3 separate regions of the Homo sapiens genome follow, and all the other regions are reported to be linked to region 1. Evidence: microRNA targets listed by miRTarBase, many of them from high-throughput screens and not tested one by one. Region 1 holds a microRNA gene; each other region holds the end of a gene's coding sequence.

What was found. Region 1 holds the annotated microRNA hsa-miR-4518 (GCUCAGGGAUGAUAACUGUGCUGAGA, at 2,790-2,815, opposite strand). A microRNA usually pairs through its seed, bases 2 to 8, with sites in the 3' UTR of a target mRNA and lowers its output. Matches are read on the target gene's strand: a 7mer-m8 pairs with bases 2 to 8, a 7mer-A1 pairs with bases 2 to 7 and ends in A, and an 8mer does both.
Region 2: the mRNA of CASKIN2 is a reported target of hsa-miR-4518. Seed matches in the 3' UTR shown: 8mer at 954-961 and 7mer-A1 at 1,204-1,210.
Region 3: the mRNA of EEF2 is a reported target of hsa-miR-4518. Seed matches in the 3' UTR shown: 8mer at 5,952-5,959.

Annotation. Positions count from the first base shown.
Region 1 is chr16:30,499,597-30,506,782 of GRCh38, reverse strand. It overlaps MIR4518 (microRNA 4518), which reads right to left and starts at 2,864; the gene lies at 2,782-2,864. ITGAL (integrin subunit alpha L) reads right to left here. Exons shown (of 31, transcript NM_002209.3): 18 at 2,519-2,608; 19 at 1,483-1,539; 20 at 1,321-1,394; 21 at 1-68.
Region 2 is chr17:75,494,438-75,501,623 of GRCh38, reverse strand. It overlaps CASKIN2 (CASK interacting protein 2), which reads left to right. Exons shown (of 20, transcript NM_020753.5): 19 at 1-156; 20 at 454-1,363. The coding sequence ends at 544. TMEM94 (transmembrane protein 94) reads right to left here. Exons shown (of 32, transcript NM_014738.6): 19 at 6,816-6,997; 20 at 6,590-6,728; 21 at 6,225-6,340; 22 at 5,981-6,080; 23 at 5,550-5,658; 24 at 5,153-5,342; 25 at 4,817-4,894; 26 at 4,426-4,511; 27 at 3,762-3,843; 28 at 3,301-3,449; 29 at 3,086-3,180; 30 at 2,902-2,995; 31 at 2,542-2,712; 32 at 1,172-2,362. The coding sequence ends at 2,290. MIR6785 (microRNA 6785) reads right to left here and starts at 3,076; the gene lies at 2,996-3,076.
Region 3 is chr19:3,970,487-3,977,672 of GRCh38, forward strand. EEF2 (eukaryotic translation elongation factor 2) reads right to left here. Exons shown (of 15, transcript NM_001961.4): 13 at 6,942-7,124; 14 at 6,729-6,861; 15 at 5,570-6,261. The coding sequence ends at 6,068. DAPK3 (death associated protein kinase 3) reads right to left here and starts at 613. Exons shown (of 9, transcript NM_001348.3): 1 at 435-613. RefSeq lists enhancers at 1-296, 6,914-7,123 and a silencer at 468-597.

The sequences.
Region 1 (7,186 bases):
CTTCCAAGTTACTCAGGCTCAGCTCCACAGAGAGGCTGGCAAAAGCAGTTAGACGCAGGGCTCTGGATCTGTGGGGGATGATCAGGGAAAGATGGAGGAGGGAGGATCAGGGTGGGGAATATCAGAACTGAGGGATCTGGTGGGCCAGAAAGAAATAAATCAAAACCAATCATCTTTTATGCTCAGTCTTTTTTTTTTTTTTTTTTTTTTTTTTTTTTTTTTTTGAGATGGAGTCTCACTCTGTCACCCAGGCTGGAGTGCAGTGGCGCGATCTTGGCTCACTGCAAGCTCCGCCTCCCGGGTTCACGCCATTCTCCTGCCTCAACCTCCCGAGTAGCTGGGACTACGGGCGCCCACCACCATGCCCGGCTAATTTTTTTTTTTTGTATTTTAAGTAGAGACGGGGTTTCACTGTGTTAGCCAGGATGGTCTCAATCTCCTGACCTCGTGATCCGCCCGCCTCGGCCTCCCAAAGTGCTGGGATTACAGGCCACCGCCCCCGGCTTTTTTTTTTTTTTTTATTGAGACAGAATCTCACTCTGTAGCCCAGACTGGAGTGCAATGGCACAGTCTCGGCTTACTGCAACCTCCACCTCCAGAATTCAAGCAATTCTCCTGCCTCAGCCTCCCAAATAGCTGGGATTACAGGCACGTGCCACCATGCCTGGCTAAGTTTTGTATTTTCAGTAGAGACAGGGTTTCACCATGTTGGCCAGGCTGGCCTCGAGCTCCTGACCTCAGGTGATCTGCCCGCCTTGGCCTCCCAAAGTGCTGGGATTATAGGCGTGAGCCACCGCGCCAGGCCATGCTCAGACTTTCAGTTTTACAATTCTTGCAATCTCATTTACTGATGACTGATAGGAGTTCCATGAGGGATTTGCTTTTTATTTTATTTGCTTTTTATTTTTTAGAGATAGAGTCTTGCTCTGTCACCCAGGCTGGGGTGCAGTGGTGCTTACTGCAGCCTCAAACTCCTGGCTCAAGCCATCCTCTGCCTCAATCTCCCAAGTAGCTGGGAATACAGGCATGAGCCACCGTGCCCAGCTAATTTTTAAATTTTTTTTTAGTGACAGGGTCTTGCTATGTTTCCCATAGCTGGTCTTGAACTCTTGGCCTTAACGAATCTTCCCCCTTTGGTTGGCCTCCTGAAGTGCTGGGATTATAGGCATGAGCCCCTGAGTTCAGCCTCAAATTTCTCAGAAAAGGAAACTAAGGCCCAAGAGAGGGAAGTGGTGTCTGCAAATGACATATCTGGTGAGTGGAGTGGGGGGTCTTAAAACAGAGTGGATGGGAGGCTGGAGGGTGGGAGGCCTTACTGACCTTGCAGGAGAGAAGGACACTCTCAAGTTTGCCTCACACTTCTTGTCCTCCCCACAGTTCTTCTCAAAAGGGATCTGAAACACCAAGAAGAAAGGAGTAACAGGCTCAGATCAGGAGGGACTTGTTCCCAGGCCTCTCTGCCTGCCCCTTCTCCCCTCTTACCTCCCAGGTTTCCGAGTGCAGGGAGGGTCTCAGGATGGGCGGTATGTCCTTGCCCTGCTGAGCGAGGGGTAGTGGGCAGGATGGAGAGAGGAGAGATTAACTGAGGCAGCAGACCTCATGAAGGAGAGCTGGAGGGGCAGGGGCTTAGCTCAACTGGGCTGGCTGTGGTTGGCCCTGCCCAGGAGCCAGCTGCCTTTCCAGGGCTGCCCCACTCTGCTGCCTCAGCCTACTGCCATTTGTGCAGTCTTACTCTGCTGGCAGCTCTTTTTTTTTTTTTTTTTTAAGACTGTCTTACTCTGTTGCCCAGGCTGGAGTGCAGTGGCACAATCTCTGCTCACTGCAACCTCTGCCTCCTGGGTTCAAGCGATTCTTATGCCTCAGCCTCCTGAGTAGCTGGGATTACAGGCATCTACCACCACGCCTGGCTAATTTTTTAAAAATATTTTTAGTAGAGATGGGTTTTCGCCATGTTGGCACACTGGTCTCGAACTCCTGGTCTCAAGCAATCCACCCCCCTCAGCCTTCCAAAGTGCTGGGATTACAGGTGTGAGCCACAACACCCGGCCGGCTCTTTTTTTTTTTTTTCTTCTTTAGAGACAGGGTTTCGTGCTGTTGCCTAGGCTGGAGGGCAGTGGTGCAATCATAGCTCAATAGCTCACTGCAGCCTCAACCCTCTGGCTCAAGTGATCCTCCCTGCTCAGCCTCCCAAGTAGCTGGGACTACAGGGGCGCACCATCACAATAACTAATTTTTTATGTTTTGTAGAAAGGGAGTCCCACTATGTTGCCCAGGCTGGTCTCAAACTCCTGGCCTCAAGTGCACCATCACACCCGACTAATCTTTGTATTTTTAGTAGAGATGGGGTTTCACCATGTTGGCCAGGCTGGTCCTGAACCCCTGACCTTAAGTGATCCACCCACTTCAGCCTCCCAAAGTGCTGGGATTATAGGAGTGTGCTGCCCGGCCATGGGCGGCTCTTCTTGCCAAATGGATTTCTCTGATAAACTCCCCACCATCCCTAGCCATCTCTTCTTACCGCCCTTTGGTCCCTCGGTGTCCCTTCCTCCTCCCAAAGAGAGAAATTCAGGGAAACATTGATGGGGGAGATGAGGTCTTGAACACATACCTGAGGGTGATAAGAATACAGCCTATGTCATGAATCTAACTTTTACCGCACTTCCGATTAGATGTATACCTTGTCAGCATTTTACAAGTGATGAAATTCTGGTAGTTCTTTGTCTAAGACCCTACCAGTATTGAAAATCCATTGACTACATAGCAGGTGTGTACAGCACACCCAGGGGGCTTCTCAGCACAGTTATCATCCCTGAGCCCCGGTTCCCCAGCAGACATCACTAATCAATCCCAGCACTTTTCCCCCACTGTGTCCTAACTGAAGCCCCTGAATTTTGACCTAGGCAGCCATTATCAAAGTTTGCTTAAGAAAATTTCAGAATAACTAGAATATCCTAGTTCTAGAATTTTGTTCCTTGAGAATAGGGCTGGGTCTTAGTCATTTGCTATTACCAATGCCTGACACTGGCATTTTGTAGGTACTCAAATTGTTTTTCACCTGAAGGTTCTACTAGCCCTAAGAGGTAGGTATTATTACCCCAACATTTAAAATAAGGAAAATGAGCTCTCCCTTCCTTCCTTTTCTTTCTTCTCTTTTCCTTCCTTCTCTCCTTCTTTCTTTTCTTTTTTTCTTTCTTCTTTTCCCTCCCTCCCTCCTTGCCTGCCTCCCTCCCTCCCTCCCTTCCTTCCTTCCTCCGTTGTCCTTCCTTCCTTCCCTCCTTTCTTTCTCTTTCTCTTTCATCCTCCCTCCTTCTGTCCCCCTCTAGAAAAGAAAAAAAAAAAAAGAAAATGAAAACTAAAAAGGTGGCACAGTTGTCCTAAGAGCTTGGAGTGACAGTCAAGATTTGAACCCAAATCTGTCCAAATCCAAAGTCCAGGATCTTTCCACCATGTCACACTGCTTTCTTTTCTGGCAAATTTATGTTTAAAATGTCTAAATCTTATAAGAGGTGGAATGGGAGTAGGCAGAGGGGCACTGAGTAGAGGTTTGAATGAAATAGAGGGTGAGTCGATAATTGTTGAAACTGGGTGATGAGGACCTGGGGATTCATTAAACTATTTTTTTTCTAGTTTTGTGTGATTCATATTCTCATAATAAAAAGTTTAAAACAGGCTGGGTGCAGTGGCTTACACCTGTAATCCCAGCACTTTGGGATGCCGAGGTGGGTGGATCACCTGAGGTCAGGAGTTTGAGACCAGCCTGGCCAACATGGTGAAAACCCATCTCTATCACAAATACAAAAATTAGCCAGGCATGGTGGTGTTCACCTGTAATCCCAGCTACTTGGTAGGATGTGGTGGGAGAATTACTTGAACCCAGGAGGGCAGAGGCTGCAGTGGGCCCAGATCATAACAATGCATTCTAGCCTGGGCAACACAGTGAGACTCCATCTCAAAAAAAAAAAAAAGTTTAAAACAAACTTCAAATTCTTATGTCCCAATCCTATACTGTCTTATATGAATTTTTTTTTTTTTTTGAGATGGAGTTTCACTATCATTGCCCAGGCTGGAATGCAATGGCACAATCTCAGCTCACTGCAACCTCCGCCTCCTGGGTTCAAATGATTCTCCTGCCTCAGCCTCCTGAGTAGCTGGGATTACAGGCGCCTGCCACCACACCTGGCTAATTTTTTGCATTTTTAGTAGAGATGGGTTTTCACCATGTTGACCAGGCTGGTCCTGAACTCCTGACCTCAAGTGATCCGCCCACCTCAGTCTCCCAAAGTGCTGGGATTACTGGCATGAGCCACCATGCCTGGCCTTTTATGAAATATTTAAGAGAACATAACAATTTGATATCAATCCTTTTTTTTTTTTTTTTTTTTTTTTGAGATGGAGTCTTGCTCTGTCGCCCAGGCTGGAGTGCAGGGGCGCGATCTCGGCTCACTGCAAGCTCCGCCTCCCGGGTTCATGCCATTCTCCTGCCTCAGCCTCCCAAGTAGCTGGGACTACAGGCCCCCACCACCACGCCCAGCTAATTTTTTGTATTTTTAGTAGAGACGGGGTTTCACCGTGTTAGCCAGGATGGTCTCAATCTCCTCACCTCGTGATCCGCCCACCTTGGCCTCCCAAAGTGCTGGGATTAGAGGCGTGAGCCACCGCGCCCGGCCATATTAATCCCATTTTTATACAGGATTGCTTATAAGCAACTGAATCTGGGTATTTCAACAGTTGTTCAAACTTTATTGTTTTGGAGACAGAGTCTCATTCTGTTGCCCAGGCTGGAGTGCAGTGGCACAATCACAGCTCATTGCAACCTCCACCTCCTGGGTTCAAGCAATCCTCCTGCTTCAGCCTCCCAGGTAGCTGGGACTACAGGTGCGCTCCACCAAGGCTGGCTAATTTTTTGGTGTTTTTTGTAGAGAAGGGGTCTCGCTATGTTGCCCAGGCTGGTGTTGAACTCCTAAGCTCAAGCAATCCACCTACTTCAGCCTCTCAAAGTGCTGGCATGAGCCACCGTGCCTGGCCTGTTTTAACTTTTTTAAAAACTTTTTTTTTCCATGTACCATACATGAGACTTAATTTAAAAACTTTAAAAAATCCCTAAGTTTTTCTGGGATGCATGATATGTACCTGGCAAATAACAACATACCATGATGATTGAATATTCTGTAAAAATTAAATATTTTAATTTTTTTTTTTTTTTTTGAGATGGAGTTTCACTCTTGTTGCTCAGGCTGGAGTGCAATGGCACGATCTCGGCTCACTGCAACCTCCATCTCCTGGGTTCAAGTGATTTTCCTGCCGCAGCCTCCCAAGTAGCTGGAATTACAGGCATGGGCCACCACGCCCAGCTAATTTTGTACATTTTTAGTAGAGATGGGGTTTCTCCATGTTGGCCAGGCTGGTCTTGGACTGCCAATCTCAGGTGATCTGCCCACCTCGGCATCCCAAAGTGCTGGGATTACAGGTATGAACCACCGTGCCCAGCCAAACATTTTAATATTTCATAATTAAAAATTATGAAAGCTGTGTAGCAGCATTAATATATAATGTATGAAAAGAGTAGGGAAAAATAGTAACTACATTGCCATTGTAATCATGTTAAAAATGCCCATAAATATATTAAAAAGTAGAAGCTGCTGGGCACGGTGGCTCATGCCCGTAATCCCAGCACTTTTGGAGGCCAAGGTAAGAGGATTACTTGATGCCAAGGGTTTTAGACCAGCCTGGGCAACACAGCAAGACCTTGTCTCTACAAAAACTATTTTTTTTTTTTTTGAGATGGAGTTTCACTCTTGTTGCCCAGGCTGGAGTGCAATGGCACGATCTTGGCTCACTGCAACCTCTGCCTCCTGGGTTCAAGCAATTCTCCTGCCTCAGCCTCCCAAGTAGCTGGGATCACAGGCATGTGCCAACACACGCAGCTAATTTTGTATTTTTAGTAGAGATGGGGTTTCACCATGTTGGCCAGGCTGGTCTCGAACTCCTGACCTCAGGTGATCCACCCACCTTGGCCTCCCAAAGTGCTGAGCCACCGCGCTTGGCCTACAAAAACATTTTTAAAAATTATCCAGATGTGGTGGTGCATGCCTGTAGTCCTAGCTACTCGGGAGGCTGAGGTGGGAGGATCATTTGAGCCCAGAAGTTGGAGGCTACAGTGAGCCATGATTGCATCACTCCACTCCAGCCTGGACGATAGAGCAAGGCCCTGTCTCTAAAAAAATTTTTTTAATAAAAAATTAAAAAAATTAAAAACCTAGAAGCAGCCAGGCACAGTGGTGTGCACTTGTAGTCCCTGCTACTCAGGAAGCTGAGGCAAGAGAACCTCTTGAGGCCAGAAGTTAGAGTCCAGCCTGGGCAACAAAGTAAGACCCCCATCTCTAAAAATATAAAATATGGCCGGGGGCAGTGGCTCATGCCTGCAATCCCAGCACTTTGGGAGGCCGAGGTAGGAGGATCACCTGAGGTCAGGAGTTCGAGACCAGCCTGGCCAACATGGTGAAACCCCAACTCTACTAAAAATATAAAAATTAGTTGGGCATGGTGGCATGCACCTGTAATCCCAGCTACTCGGGAGGCTGAGGCAGGAGAATCGCTTGAACCCGGGAGGCAGAGGCTGTAGTGAGCCGAGATCATGCCACTGCACTCCAGCCTGGGTGATAGAGCGAGACTCTGTCTCAAATAAATAAATAAATAAATAAATAAATAAATAAATAAATAAATAATATAAAATAGGCCAGGAGCGATGGCTCATGCCTGTAATCCCAGCACTTTGGGAGGCCAATGCAGGCAGATCACCAGAGGTCAGGAGTTCGAGACCAGCCTGACTAACATGGTGAAACCCTATCTCTCCCAAAAATACAAAAATTAGCTAGGCATAGTGGCAGGTGCCTGTAATCCCAGGTACTCGGGAGACTGAGGCAGGAGAATTGCTTGAACCCAGGAGGTGGAGGTGGCCATGAGCCGAGATCGTGCTGTAGTAAGTGAGACCGTGCCACTGCACTACAGCCTGGGTGACAGAGCGAGACTCTGTGTCAAAAAAAAAAAAATATATATATATATATATATACATATATATATATACACATATATATACATATATATACACATATATATATAATTTAAAAAAAACACTAGAAGAAAATATGCTAAGGGTGTTATTACTACCATTGCACAGGAGAGGAAG
Region 2 (7,186 bases), not on the chromosome of region 1:
CCGGCTCGGCCCCCGCCCAGTGCCTCCTCCACGGCCTGAGAGCACTGGGACTGTGGGCCCAGGCCAGGCCCAGCAGAGACTGGAGCAGACCAGCTCGTCCCTGGCAGCTGCACTGAGAGCCGCAGAGAAGAGCATTGGCACCAAGGAGCAAGAGGGGTGAGGGGGGCCGGATGGGGAGGGAGAGAAGGCTGCAGAGAAACAGTGCTCCCTGCATCCTCTGCCCAGGGATCATGGGGATGTTGGAGGGGGACATTGCAGGCACTAACGGGATAAGAGGCCAGGTGTTGAAATCACCTAGATCAGGGAATCCTGGTGGCTACCATTTAAGAGGCACAGGAGCCTGGCCGGTCCCTTGCCTCCCTGAGCCTCTGGGAGCTATGACAGCTCCCTGCCCCAGGGCCAGTGGGGTGCAGGCCACTGGCTGATCTGACCGCATCCTTCCCCTTGCTGCAGCACCCCCAGCGCCTCCACCAAGCACATTCTGGATGACATCAGCACCATGTTCGACGCCCTGGCTGACCAGCTGGACGCCATGCTGGACTGAGCCCTCCAGCAGTGCCCACTGTGACCTGCCGAAGTCCACTGCCTTTGCCCCAGCACAGAAGAGGCCCCTGCCACCCTAGGGACGGGCCAAGGGCTGGTCAGGCTGAAGTGCCCCTCCTAGCAGGGCCCCTTCCCACTCAGCCCGCGGCTGTGGGCACCACAGCTCTTGTGGGGCAGCCCACCTTAGAACCTGACTAGCGAGGGACCTCCGCTGCATCTCAGCAAAGCCCCTCCCAGGGTTTGATCGATTGAGCAGGACAGCCCTGCTCCTGGACAGGGACCCTGGTAAGAGCTCTCTCCTCAGGGAGGAAGTAGGGGTGGGGCTTTGGGGGTGCTTTCTCTGTACCCCCCAGCCCATGTCCCAAGTTGTGCCAAGGGAATGCCTCTTGCCACCCACCATCCTGCCCAGGCCCTGAGAGGCTGGAGGAGGCGTGTGTCTGGCCGGGCCCCCTCTCCGTAGGTGTACAGAGGACATGTAAATACACAGCGGTGGTGCCCAGGCAGCTCCTGCCCCCGCCTTCCCTCACTGAGGCAGGGCTAGCAGGGGTGGGAGGCAGTGGGGTTAACAGATCCCACAAGTCCTAACTTTTCAATTGTAAATGTTATTTTCTAAGCAGAGAGAAATGCATATATTTTAAATGGAATTTATTCTATCAACTGCCTGAGAGGACACAATGGGGGAGGGGCTTCGGACCACAGCAGGAGCCCCGACTGCCCACCTGAGGGCAGGGAGAGCCTGACCCCATTGGCCCAGGCCCTGGCTCTGTAACCATTAACCTCTTCCCCCAACTAACACCAATGAAAACACCATTCCACGTGACTGGGCTGTGTGTTTGCCTCTGTGACATGGGGACCCCTGACCCTAGGGGTCTCGCCTGAGCCAGACCTGAGGGACCCACCCGCGTAGATGGAGGAAGGTTTAGGCCTCCCTTTGCCAGCCACCGCCGGGGGTGGGCAGACCCTGGAGTGGCCTTACAGACCAGCCACAGGTATTTCTTAGCAATTGACACATTTTAATACAAACCAGTCTACATTCATTCCTAAAAGGCTCATTTCCAGTAAAAAATATACACCAGTAGAAACTTCTCCCAGAACTGGGGCAGAGGCTGAGGAGACCTGGGCCAGATTCCCCAAGACTGACAGGCAGCCAGCTTGAGCCAGGCACAGGAAGAGGCTCCAGGGCGAAGCGGGGGCCCTGCTCCATCTTCAGGTTCAGGCGGGAGACTCCCCCACAGAGGGAGGGAGGGGAGGCACTCGGGGCCACATCCAGGCAAGCACCACCCCCCTGCCCTCCACGGCAGCCTTGGGAGTTGGACGCGTCGGCCAAGGCTGCTGCTGTTGCTCCTCCAAAGAAGGTTGGCTTCAAGGCCGTGTCCAGGGACCCACGAGCAGAGGCACTGGGGGGCAAGGGATCTCCAAGGGGGCAAGGGATCCCTAAAGGGGGTAGCTCACAGGTGAGGGGGTTTAGGGCCCCTCTAGGGAGCGCCTGAGGCCATACATTCAAGAGTGTCCCTGGTGAGGCCCAGGGAAGAGCCAGGACTGGCCAAGGGCCCAGGCCGTCAGCTCCTCCACAGTGAGCCCCAGGGCTCAGGAAGACAGCGGGGTCTGACACGGGGAGCTGGGTTTCCAGTGCCACGGGTGCAGGAGCAAACCTGGAAACATTCATGATACAAACTCCCCTGTTCAGAAATGGGTCTGGCTTTAGCCCCAGGGACGGGGGCAACTACAGCCACCACAGCCAGTGGCTCAGAAGGGAGAGTTCATGCCCAGCTTAGTTTCAAACTGCAGCTTCTGTCGCTTCTGGTAGCGGACTCGGACCCTGGTGGGGCAGGAGATTAAAGTACAGGTTGGCAAAGATCCTTAGACCAGGGGCCGGGGCAGGACACCAGAGGAGGAGGGAGGGATGGGCAGCGGAAAGGTGGGGGAGTGTCGCCAAGGGAGTAACAGGTTTAGGGAACATGCCTGAGCCCAGAGGGAGGCGCCCTGCTGACAGCTCACCGAATCTCATGTAGCTTCACGATCTCATTGGTCACCACCACAAGGACCAGGGACAGGCAGCCCAGGAGCCATGTCAGCAGGGGCACGTCCTCCAGGCCAAAGTGGACGTGGCTGTCCCTGTGTGTCCACAGCTGCAGGTCCACAGCCGTCTGGACCACCTGACCCAGCAGCCTGCAGGAGGTGGCGGCCCCGTGTGAACCCGACACTGCTTGCTTCCTTCCCTGCTCTTCCCAGTACAACAGTTAGCTCAGGCAGGGTACAGTTAAACCACTGGCCCCGGTCCCGCCCTCCGATCCTAGCCCTGCAGAAGGCCCTCTCCTCCCCAGCCCACACTCCGCCCTCCATCCTAGCAATACTCACACCACAGGCACTGTCACGGCCCACCAGAGGTTGGTCAAGGGGCTCTTTCTCCACAGGGGCTTGGTGCGATGCACATGGGTGATGGAAATGAAGACTGGGGAAGGTGGGGCGATGTGGGGGTCAGACTTCCACAGTGGGGCTCCTCTCCCACCATCATCCACGCCCTCCCAGGGAGCCCTCTCACCAGTGTGCAGGACAATCAGGGCGGCCGTGAGCTTCTGAGCCGACAGCAGTCCATTGGCAAAGTCCTCAAACCAGGCTGGAGCCCTGTCGTCGTTGCTGCCAAAGTGAGGCATGGGCTCAGCCCCTCTAGGGCCGCAGGGAGGTAGGCTGGGGTGGGGAGGGAGGAAGCCTCGAGGCGAGGCAGGCGATGGGTGGATCTCTGGGGCTGGGACCCACCTGGGCAGCATGACGGAGGAGCAGTTGGTGAGGTTGCGGTCCCGGGAGCTGTCACAGAAGCTCTGCAGTGTGAAGCCAAAGCAGATGAGGCAGGAGCTGATGGTGAGGCTGAACTTGAGCAGGAAGCAGAGCAGGAAGTAGTGCTGGGTCTGCGGGAACAAGGCCAGTCACTCCTGGGGCGCACAGCCCCTCTGCCGGCTGCTCCTAGCTCTTCCACGTATTCAACGGGCTCTTAGTAAATGGTCAGGCCTGGGGGGATAGGGAGCTCAAGCCCCAGCAAGGGTCTTTCCCAGCTCTGTGCCACTACCTCCTCTTTGATCTGGGGGAAGACTAGGAACCAAGTGCCGGAGTTCTGCTGGAATCCCCCATCCAGAGCCTTCCAGATTAGCCCCTCTCTCCTCCCCCAATCCTCAGTCCCTTCCATGCTCACTTGCAAGGCTCACAGGGTCTGTTTTGCTTACCTTCTTGGGAATGGACTGGAGGTTTTTCCCCGTTGCCATAGACATGATGGAGCTATGGGGGGGCTTCCCCAGCAGAGAGATGCTGAAAAGCAGAGATCAGGTAGAGGGATGGTGACAATGACCCTCTGTCCCTCAATTCTCATAGAGGGAACCTCTAGGGAGTCTTGCGCGTGAGGTCGAGTCTGGTGAGGGGATGGAATAAAACAAAGGCTGGACGGCAGTGGCTCACACCTGTAATCCCAGCACTTTGGGAGGCTGAGATGGGCAGATCATTTGAGGTCAGGAGTTCAAAACCAGCCTCGCCAACATGGCAAAAACCCATCTCTACTAAAAATACAAAAATTAGCCAGGCATGATAGTGGGTGCCTGTAATCCCAGCTACTCAGGGGGCTGAGGCAGGAGAATCACTTGAGCCCGGGAGGCGGAGGTTGCAATGAGCAGAGATTGCACCATTGCACTCCAGCCTGGGTGACAGAGCGAGACTCCATCTCAAAAAAAAAAAAAAAAAAAAAAAAAAAGACAAAGGGGGTTCCCTCCATGCCTCCTGTACCAGAGGAGGTGAGACCTGAGCAGTTCCAGAACCTTGGGCTCCTGGGGCTGCACAGTGACATCCAGACACCTCCTGCTTAGGCATGGGGTGTGGGGAAGATACATGGCATCTCACCTGAGCAGAGGGTAGCAAAAGCAGGACAGCCACAGGATGTCGGTGGTACTCAGGAGTGGCGGCAGCTGGACCAGGCAAGAAAGGAACTAGACCAGGAAAGAAGCCAAGAGCCACAGTTCAATTCAGGCAAATAATAAGGGCATAGGAGCCCCCGAGCTCCCTTGCCCTGGGCCCAGATAGATGCTCACATCCTGCCAGAGGGAACAGGGGCCGGAGGGAATACTCTTCTGCCAATGAGGGTCAGCTCAAAAAGCCCAGGGGCTTCACAGAGGCTCTGGGGGGACCCCTTGACTGTACTGCTAACCCCAGCCTCCTTCCTCAGATTTTCAGCTGGCCCCTGAGTGAAGGGGTGAGTGGCACGGGGGCAATGCCTGTGCGGGCCCCACCTCACCTGGATGACCACAAGAGTCAGCTGGCACTGCAGCAGGAAGAGGAAGCACTTACGGATGCCATAGGTGGCATGCCGAGCCTAGGGACCAAGAGGGACAGATTATGGCCTGGGTCTACCTGGCCTCTCCCAGGCCCAACAGCTGACACACTTTAGCCAAGAGCCAGACGCCCAGGATGCTTCTACGAGGGGAGCAGAGGCGAATGTAACTGCCTGGGAGAGCCCGCTCGGAGGGCTGGGGAATGAGGTCCCCGGGTTCAAACAGGTCCTTTGCTGCTACTCCCACCCCAGGCGGGTCCTGTCCTGCGTCTCTCCTCCTTTGCCTGCCGAAGCACCCACCTGTTCGATAAGCCGGATGATGCTGATGGTCTCCTCCTGGCGAAAGGTCAGGGAACAGGGCAGGCTGTTGAGCTGCCCTGACAGCTGCAGGGGAGAAAGGCCATCCGAGGCCTGGGCCATGCTGATGCTGGTGGCGTAGCCAAAGGTCTCCCAGGAGCAACGGGATGGGTACAGGGGATCCAGGGCAATGCTGCTCAGGGTGGGGGACACACACACTTCAGCTGTATCTCCCACAGGACTGGGCACCCCACCCTCTTCTCCCACCATGCCCAGGTGCATTGGTCCCAGCCAGGGCGAGGTCGGCTATAGTACACACCCCCAGCCCCACGCAGGCCCATCTGATCCTCCGGTCTGGGAGGTAGAGGCTGGCCCGCAGGCTCCAGGGTCCCGCCCTGACCTGATGTCGCTCTGGAGGAAGAGGCAGCTGTTCCGCAGGTTGGCAGAGCTGCCCAGGCAGCAGGTCACCTCCCCGTACTCTTGCATGATCTTTATCATCTCACACATGGCTGAGGACAGCGTATAAGGGCACCAGAGTCAGGCAGGCAGAGCACCAAGTGGGCACTGGGCAGAGACCCATGGGACAGGAGAGCAGGAGGCGATGGGAGGTGGGCCCCTCTTTGAAACAATCCCACCCCCGGCAGCGGGATCATGTGAACATCGGCACTTCTGACTCCAACCCACAAGATTCCCCAGCTGATCCCAGCCCAGGTTCCTTTACTCCCTGCATGGGAAACCTACATCCCTCCAGAGCCCACGGGGTACGCAGGCCCAGGCAGAGCTCAGCCGACGGGACCAGGTTGCCCAAGTACCCATGGCCACAGCACTCACTCTCTGGGGTGCAGTCGGTGAAAAGGGGCACTAGCAGGGGCACGTTGTCAATGTTCTGCAGGTGGGGCCGCACTTGGTGGATACCCCGGGGCAGCTTGGCCTGGAGAAAGCAGAGATGCCAGCGGCTTCGGGATGGGGATCAGCATCCCTCCCCTCCACCGCCTGCCCACCACCTCTCTACCTCTCCCCTGGACCAGCTATGGGACCACTACAGGAACACGTGAGACAGATCCTGCCATCGTACCCGGTTGGAGTCCTCCAGGAAGCTGGGGATGTCGCTGTCCGTAGGCTGGAAGCTGATGAGGTCCGAGTGGCCCTCCTCCTCCATGAGGAGGAGCCCTTCTGCATCATCTCGGGACACTGTGGGGACAAAAGCCTCTCCCTCACCTTGGGACCAGCCTTCTGGGAACCTGTCCTTGCCCTGCAGAGAATTTTTTGCCTGTGTCCACTCCTTCCTGCTGACTACTGTTTCCCGCAGGGACATCAGAGCCATTTCCCAAGGGAATGTACTTAACTGGAGGGCTCTCCGGAGGCTCTTCCTGGCTGTGGCTCTGAGGAGGGGAATCCTCCCACCGCCACCCCGTCCCCACCCCACGCCTTTGCCCTTACCCTGATTCAGGTCATCATGCAGGGAGCCTGCGTGGCTGGGGCTGGAGGGGGGGATCTCGGAGCCAGGCATGTCACCATTGGGTGTGAGGGAGATGTGGCAGTTCCAGCCTGTCTCCAGGCCCATTTTTTCTGCAAACACCTGTGAAAGGCAGACGGCCATGAACATACGGGCCCAAAAGCCCGTGGAAACAGAGTTAGTGGTGGCAGAAGGGATGGCTCTCCCCACCTTGCTTTTGAGCTCATCCTCCAAAGAGAAGTAGACAAAGCGGATGCAGGCGTTGACAAGCCCATCAATGAGGCGCACGATGTCCAGCCGGGCCTGGTACTGGGAGGACACCATGCCCATGAAGATCTGGCCGCTCAGGGCCTGCATGCAGTCTTCCTTCTCCAGCACCTCCCCGATCCCTTCTTCAGGCAGGACACACAGGACACAGCCCGATCAGGACACCCAGGAACCAGCCCAGGGCCACACACACAGATGCCACACCCAAATCAATGAGCATATGGGCCCCAGGGGACCACACACAGCCAAGACACACGAAGGAGCCGACAGACACAGGAGAAAAGACAGTGAAAGGTATGCATCAGTCAGGTAGC
Region 3 (7,186 bases), not on the chromosome of region 1:
CGCCCACCCCCAACCATCTCTGACTCCCTCCAATTCTGAATTTTCCAAGAACCGGACGACGCCTTCCACGCTCCTGAAAGCCCACTTTGCCTCCCTCCCCCGCTGACCTCCACTGTCCTCGCAAGATTAACCTCTTCCTCCACGCTCCATGTATCAAAGTCCCCCAACCGCCGTCTCCCCTACCCCCCAAAACGGGCCGCCAAAAAGGGCCCCATCTGAGTCTCCTCCACCGTCCTCTGCCCCTTCTCGCCCGCAATCTCCGCACAAGCCCCTAGGCAGACCCCAGTGGCTCCCTTTGCAGAACCTCCCCCCGCCCCCAAGGCCTTGCCCATCCCTAAGGCTCCGCTCCAGCATCCCTGGGGCCGCTACGCCCCTCGCACGCCCGGCCGAGCCCTTTCCCCGGCCCGGTCACCCAGATGGGTCCCCAAACCTACCAGCTCCTCAGATTCTCTCCCTCCCTCGTCCTCCGCGGGCCCCCGAAGCGCCGCTCTGGCCCCACCCAGCCCTCCAGCCTCGGCCCGAGCCCGCTCTTTACCCTCCGCAGCCCGGAGAATACGGCCGGCGCCGCCGCGCTGGCCACCGCCGCCGCCTCCAGAAGCCCCGCGCCCCTGCCGCCGCGACGCGCCTGCGCCGACGTCACCGCACCCGCCAGTGCCCACCCCCGGGAAACGAACCCCGCCGCCTATTGGCCGGTGCGCCCGCCGCTCGTGCCGCACCTCGACGTCCCGCCCCCAGCTGCCTTTTCGGCACCCACACCCGGATGCAGCCTCACCACTGGCTGAACACTCGCCATCCCTGATTTCATTGGCTGCAGTCGACGCTGGTCAAGCGGACGGAAAAAAGGCCGACTTCCGGTCCCTTCATCGCCCCGCCCGCCTCTCCTCTGACCCAGGTGCTGAAGCTGCGAGAAGTGAGGCTGAAGCCCTGCATCCCGCTTCCTGCCTTCCTGGAGCACCGGTTGGGCGAATGGATGGCTCACCTGTGGCCGAGCGCGCCTGGCAGCTCCTGGAGTGGACCCTGGGACTGCTTTAGTCCCTATGTGGCAGTTTCCTCCACTGAAAACTGTTACCCACATTCTAAATACTTAAAATGCAAATGAGGTCAATCTGGGGTTGTCATACACAGGGTCCCTCTTCGTCTCAAAATAGAGGGTAACAGCAAGCATTTTATTGAGACATAGTATGTGCCAACTGACAACACTGGGAGGTATCAGGTTTGTTTTTTTTTTAATTTTATTTTTTGAGACAGGGTCTCACTCTGTCACCCAGGCAGGAGTGCAGCGGCGGTATCCAGCTCACTGCAACCTCCACCTCCCGGGTTCAAACGATTCTCGTGCCTCAGCCTCCCAAGTAGCTGGGATTACAGGTGCCCATCACCACGCCCGGCTAATTTTTGTATTTTTAGTAGAGACGGGGTTTCACCATGTTGCCCAGGCTGGTCTCGAACTCCTAAGCTCAGGTGATCCGGCACCTCAGCTTTCCAAAGTGCTGAGATTACAGGCGTGAGCCATTGCGCCCGGCCTAAATTCATTTTTTATTATTATTTTGAGACGGAGTCTCGCTCTGTCACCCAGGCTGGAGTACACTGGCACAATCTCGGCTCACTGCAAGCTCCACCTCCCAGGTTCACGCCATTCTCCTGCCTCAGCCTCCCGAATAGCTGGGACTACAGGCGCCCGTCACCACGCCCAGCTAATTTTTTGTATTTATTAGTAGAGACAGGGTTTCACCGTGTTAGCCAGGATGGTCTCGATCTCCTGACCTCCTGATCCGCCCGCCTCGGCCTCCCAAAGTGCAGGAATTACAGGCATGAGCCACCTTGCCCAGCCTTTTTTTTTTTTTTTTTTTTTTTTTGAGACAGTCTCCTTCTATCGTCCAGGCTGGAACGCAGTGGTGAGATCTGGGCTCACTGCAATCTCTGCCTCCTGGGTTCAAGCGATTCTCCTGCCTCAGCCTCCCGAGTAGCTGGGACTACAGGTGCACGCCACCACTCCCAGCTGATTTTTGTATTTTTAGTAGACGCAGGGTTTCACCATGTTGGCCAGGATGGTCTCAATATCTGTGATCCGCCGGCCTCGGCCTCTCAAAGTGCTGCGATTACAGACGTGAGCCACAAGCCGGCCTTTATATTTTTTATTTACATTTTCAACGTACAATGGGTTGGCCAGGTGTGGTGGCTCACGCCCGTAATCCCAACAGCTTGGGCAGCCAAGGCGGGCAGGTCACTTGAAGTAGGAGTTCAAGACCAGCCTGCTCAACATGGTGAAACCCTGTCTCTACTAAAAATACAAAAGTTAGCCAGGCCTGGTGGCACATGCCTGTAATCCCAGCTACTCGGGAGGCTAGCGCAGGAGAATTGCTTGAACCCAGGAGGTGGAGGTTGCAGCGAGCCGAGATCATGCCACTATACTACAGCCTGGGTGACGGAGGGAGACTCCATCTCAAAGAAAAAAAAGTGGCAGGGCATGGTGGCTAACGCCTGTAATTCCAGCATTTTGGGAGGCCACGGTGGGCAGATCACGAAGTCAGGACATCAAGACCATCCTGGCTAACACGGTGAAACCCTGTCTCTACTAATAAATACAAAAAATTAGCCGGGCATGGTGGCGGGTGCCTGTAGTCCCGGCTACTCGGGAGGCTGAGGCAGGAGAATGGCGTGAACCCGGGAGGCGGAGCTTGCAGTGAGCCAAGATTGAGCCACTGCACTCCAGCCTGGGTGACAGAGCAAAGACTGTCTCAAAAAAAAAAAAAAATTCAGCTTCCACATACCATCTTAACGTTTGCACTACTAAAAAAGAATAGGACCCGGTATGGTGGCTCACACCTGTAACCCCAGCACTTTGGGAGGCTGAGGCGGGCTGATCTCTTACGGTCGAGCTTGAGACCAGCCTGGCCAACATGGTGAAACCCCATCTCACCTAAATATACAAAAATTACACAGACCTGGTGATAGGCGCCTGTAATTCCAGCTACTCGGGAGGCTGAAGCACAAGAATTGCTTGAGCACTTGAATCCGGAGGCAGAGGCTATAGTGAGCCAAGATCACAACACTGCACTCCATCCTGGGCGATAGAGTGAGATTCTCGAAACACAGTAATCCGTTACCCTGACTGCTGGAAACAGCGTCAGTTACAGCCCCAATTCAAATGCGACAGCCAAACCAAACCTCAGGCATACCTACATGTGGGCAAAACCTCAGCTGAGGCTTGGCCTTGACAATGCAGGGCCAGAGCTGCCCCCGCCTTTGCCGAGAACCCCACAGCCCTACTTCACAGTCCCCACCTGCCTTCCTGAGGACAGAGTAAAAGGCGGAAAATGATCATGTTAACCTTATCAGCACTGACAAGATTAGGCCTCCTCACATCTTAGGCACTATTTAGAAAAACAAATAGTTTTCTAAGCTATTGGCGCTCACACCTGAAATCCCAGCACTTTGGGAGGCTGAGGCAGAAGGATCGCTTGAGCCCGGGAAGGAGACCAGCCTGAGCAACATAGTGAGACCCCATTACTACAAAAAAAGTAAAAATTAGGTCAGCACAGTGGCTCACGCCTATAATTCCCAGCACTTTGGGAGGCCGAGGCGGGTGGATCACGAGGTCAGGAGATCGAGACTATCCTGGCTAACACGGTGAAACCCTGTCTCTACTAATAAATACAAAAAATTAGCCGGGCATGGTGGCGGGCGCCTGTAGTCCCGGCTACTCGGGAGGCTGAGGCAGGAGAATGGCGTGAACCCGGGAGGCGGAGCTTGCAGTGAGCCAAGATTGAGCCACTGCACTCCAGCCTGGGTGACAGAGCAAAGACTGTCTCAAAAAAAAAAAAAAATTCAGCTTCCACATACCATCTTAACGTTTGCACTACTAAAAAAGAATAGGACCCGGTATGGTGGCTCACACCTGTAACCCCAGCACTTTGGGAGGCTGAGGCGGGCTGATCTCTTACGGTCGAGCTTGAGACCAGCCTGGCCAACATGGTGAAACCCCATCTCACCTAAATATACAAAAATTACACAGACCTGGTGATAGGCGCCTGTAATTCCAGCTACTCGGGAGGCTGAAGCACAAGAATTGCTTGAGCACTTGAATCCGGAGGCAGAGGCTATAGTGAGCCAAGATCACAACACTGCACTCCATCCTGGGCGATAGAGTGAGATTCTCGAAACACAGTAATCCGTTACCCTGACTGCTGGAAACAGCGTCAGTTACAGCCCCAATTCAAATGCGACAGCCAAACCAAACCTCAGGCATACCTACATGTGGGCAAAACCTCAGCTGAGGCTTGGCCTTGACAATGCAGGGCCAGAGCTGCCCCCGCCTTTGCCGAGAACCCCACAGCCCTACTTCACAGTCCCCACCTGCCTTCCTGAGGACAGAGTAAAAGGCGGAAAATGATCATGTTAACCTTATCAGCACTGACAAGATTAGGCCTCCTCACATCTTAGGCACTATTTAGAAAAACAAATAGTTTTCTAAGCTATTGGCGCTCACACCTGAAATCCCAGCACTTTGGGAGGCTGAGGCAGAAGGATCGCTTGAGCCCGGGAAGGAGACCAGCCTGAGCAACATAGTGAGACCCCATTACTACAAAAAAAGTAAAAATTAGGTCAGCACAGTGGCTCACGCCTATAATTCCCAGCACTTTGGGAGGCCGAGGCGGGCAGATCACTTGAGGTCAGGAGTTCGAGACCAACCAGGCCAAGCAAAATTCTGTCTCAAAATAAATAAAAATTAGCTGGGCATGGTGGCACATGCCTGGAGTCCCAGCTACCTGGCAGGCTGAGGCAGGAGAGTCCAGGAGGTGGAGGATGCAGTGAGCTGACTGCACCACTATACTCATCTGGGAGACAGCAAGACTCTGCCTCTAAAAAAGTGTTTACAAGGCCGGGCACAGTGGTACAATCCCAACGCTTTGGGAGGCCAAGGCGGGTGGATCACAAGGTCGAGTGATCAAGATCATCCAGGCCAACATGGTGAAACCTCATCTCTACTAAAAATATAAAAATTGGCTGGGCGTGGTAGCACACGCATGTAATCCCAGCTACCCAGGAGCCCGAGGCAGAATTGCTTGAACCCGGGAGGTGGAGGTTGCAGTGAGCAGAGATGGTGCCATTCCACTCCAGCCTAGCAAACGGTGAGACTCCATCTCAAAAAAAAAAAAAAAAAAAATGGGTTTCTAATAAACTAGTCAGGACTGGGGTGACCACAGAAAATCCTGATGGCAGATAGAACTTGTGAGCTCGTCAGCAATTCGGAAAGTTGCTGAAACCTGCGAAGTTCAATCCAGAGCCCCTCGCTCCACAGGGCCATCCAAATGCGTTCAAAGTGACATCTCGTAATTCCTTGCCGCACTGATCCTACTTCAAATGCTCAGCAGACCCGCGCAGCTGGCAGCTGCTTCTCTGAATGACACAGGGGTAGGGCATTCCCACCATTCCAGAACGTTCCACCTAACACTGAGGCAGCCCCAGGCTGCACCTAACTAGGGCCCGGGTCCCCTTCTAGGCTCCAGGGAGCCCAGTACTGGGCAGCCCCGCTCCCCTGCGAAGACACCGTGAAAAATGCAGAACAGAGTCACCACCTTATCAAATTTATTATTCCAATGGCACTAGTACAGCTGGAGGTGCTCATGGTGACACCGCACAGGACTTCCTGCCTGCTAGAAATCATCTACCCGCGTGTTCCTTTCCCCTTTCTGGGGCAAAAGCCACTGCGGGCCATGTACCCAAATAAACCTCTTAATGCGTTTGTTAAAATTAGTTTGGACATCTGAGTTTCCCTCTGAAGAAATGGAAAAAGTGTTGGGTGTCCCATCCCGCCTCCCCCTCCCCGACCGGCCCATTAAGTCCCTACTAAGAGGGCGTGTCTGCTGCCTCCGGACTCTGGAAATAAATATTGAAAGAAACGGCATCAAGTGTTATGGTTGAGTGATGGCACGCAGCGGGCCCCAGAAACCTCTCAGGGGAGCGTCGCTGTGTCGGGACAGTCTCCAGGTGTCGTCTGAGAATTCGAGGACGTGGTGCTGTGGGTGCTGCGAGTCCCCGGGGCGGCAGGCGCTGCAGGAAGGGCCGCCTACAATTTGTCCAGGAAGTTGTCCAGGGCAGGGATGCCTTCTTTCAGGCCCTTGCGCTTGCGGGTCTCCGCCACCACCTGGCTGGGGCGGCTGCTGTTGTCGAAGGGGTCTCCGGGCAGGATCTGCCAGTGGTCAAACACACACTGGGGGAACGCCTGGCCGCCCGTGTTGGACCTCAGGTCAGCGGTGAAGCCTGCAGAGGGAAGCGAGAGGCTCACTGGGCCATCGAGAAGGTGGCAGGGCAGAAGGAAAGTCCTGTCAGGAGCTCAGGCTAGTTCCTCAGCCTGAGTCACCCTGCAGACCAGACACTCGGCCTGGTGCCCAGCACTTCACGAAGGGCCTAGCAGGCCACTCATGGGCCTCATGCCGCTGCTCGTTTGGGACAACCCTGTGCTACAGCTCGGCTGCTCTACCGGCCCAGGGCGTAGGCCTTCAGAGCTCCAGGCCCAGAGCCCTTCTCACACTGGGGATAGGAGAGCCCCTCCCCTGGGAATTCAGTGATTTAGGGGGTCCACAAGCTGTCAGAAACTGGACCACCTGCTCCATCCATCACCTGCTCCCATCAGGACGCCTCCTTTAACACCTTGCTAAGCTTAACTGGGCTTCTGTCCCCCAAACCAGCCTGCCAGGCTCTGCAGGCCACACCGGGCAGGCACTCACCAAAGGACTCGTTGACGGGCAGATAGGCCTTGACCACAAACATGGGGGTGCCGGCCACCTGGGACTCCTCGAACACGTGGCCCCGCTTCCTGTTCAAAACCCCGTAGATGCCACCGACCACCTGCTCTGGACACTGCCAGAAGGGAAAGAAAACCTGTCAGTGGCCGCTGGGCAGGACGGTGGCAGGGTCAGCGGTGGGCGGGTAGACCTCACCTGGATCTCCACAAGGTAGATGGGCTCCATGAGGCGTGGCTGGGCGGTCAGCACACTGGCATAGAGGCAGCGCCGTGCTGTGGGGATGATCTGGCCCCCTCCGCGGTGGATGGCGTCGGCGTGCAGGGTGACGTCGTGGACGTCGAAGCGCACACCCCGCATGTTCTCCTCACACAGTGCGCCCTGGGGGAGGGGGAGAGCCACCGTCAAGGGCCGGACACACCTCGGCTGCTTGCCCTCCACCT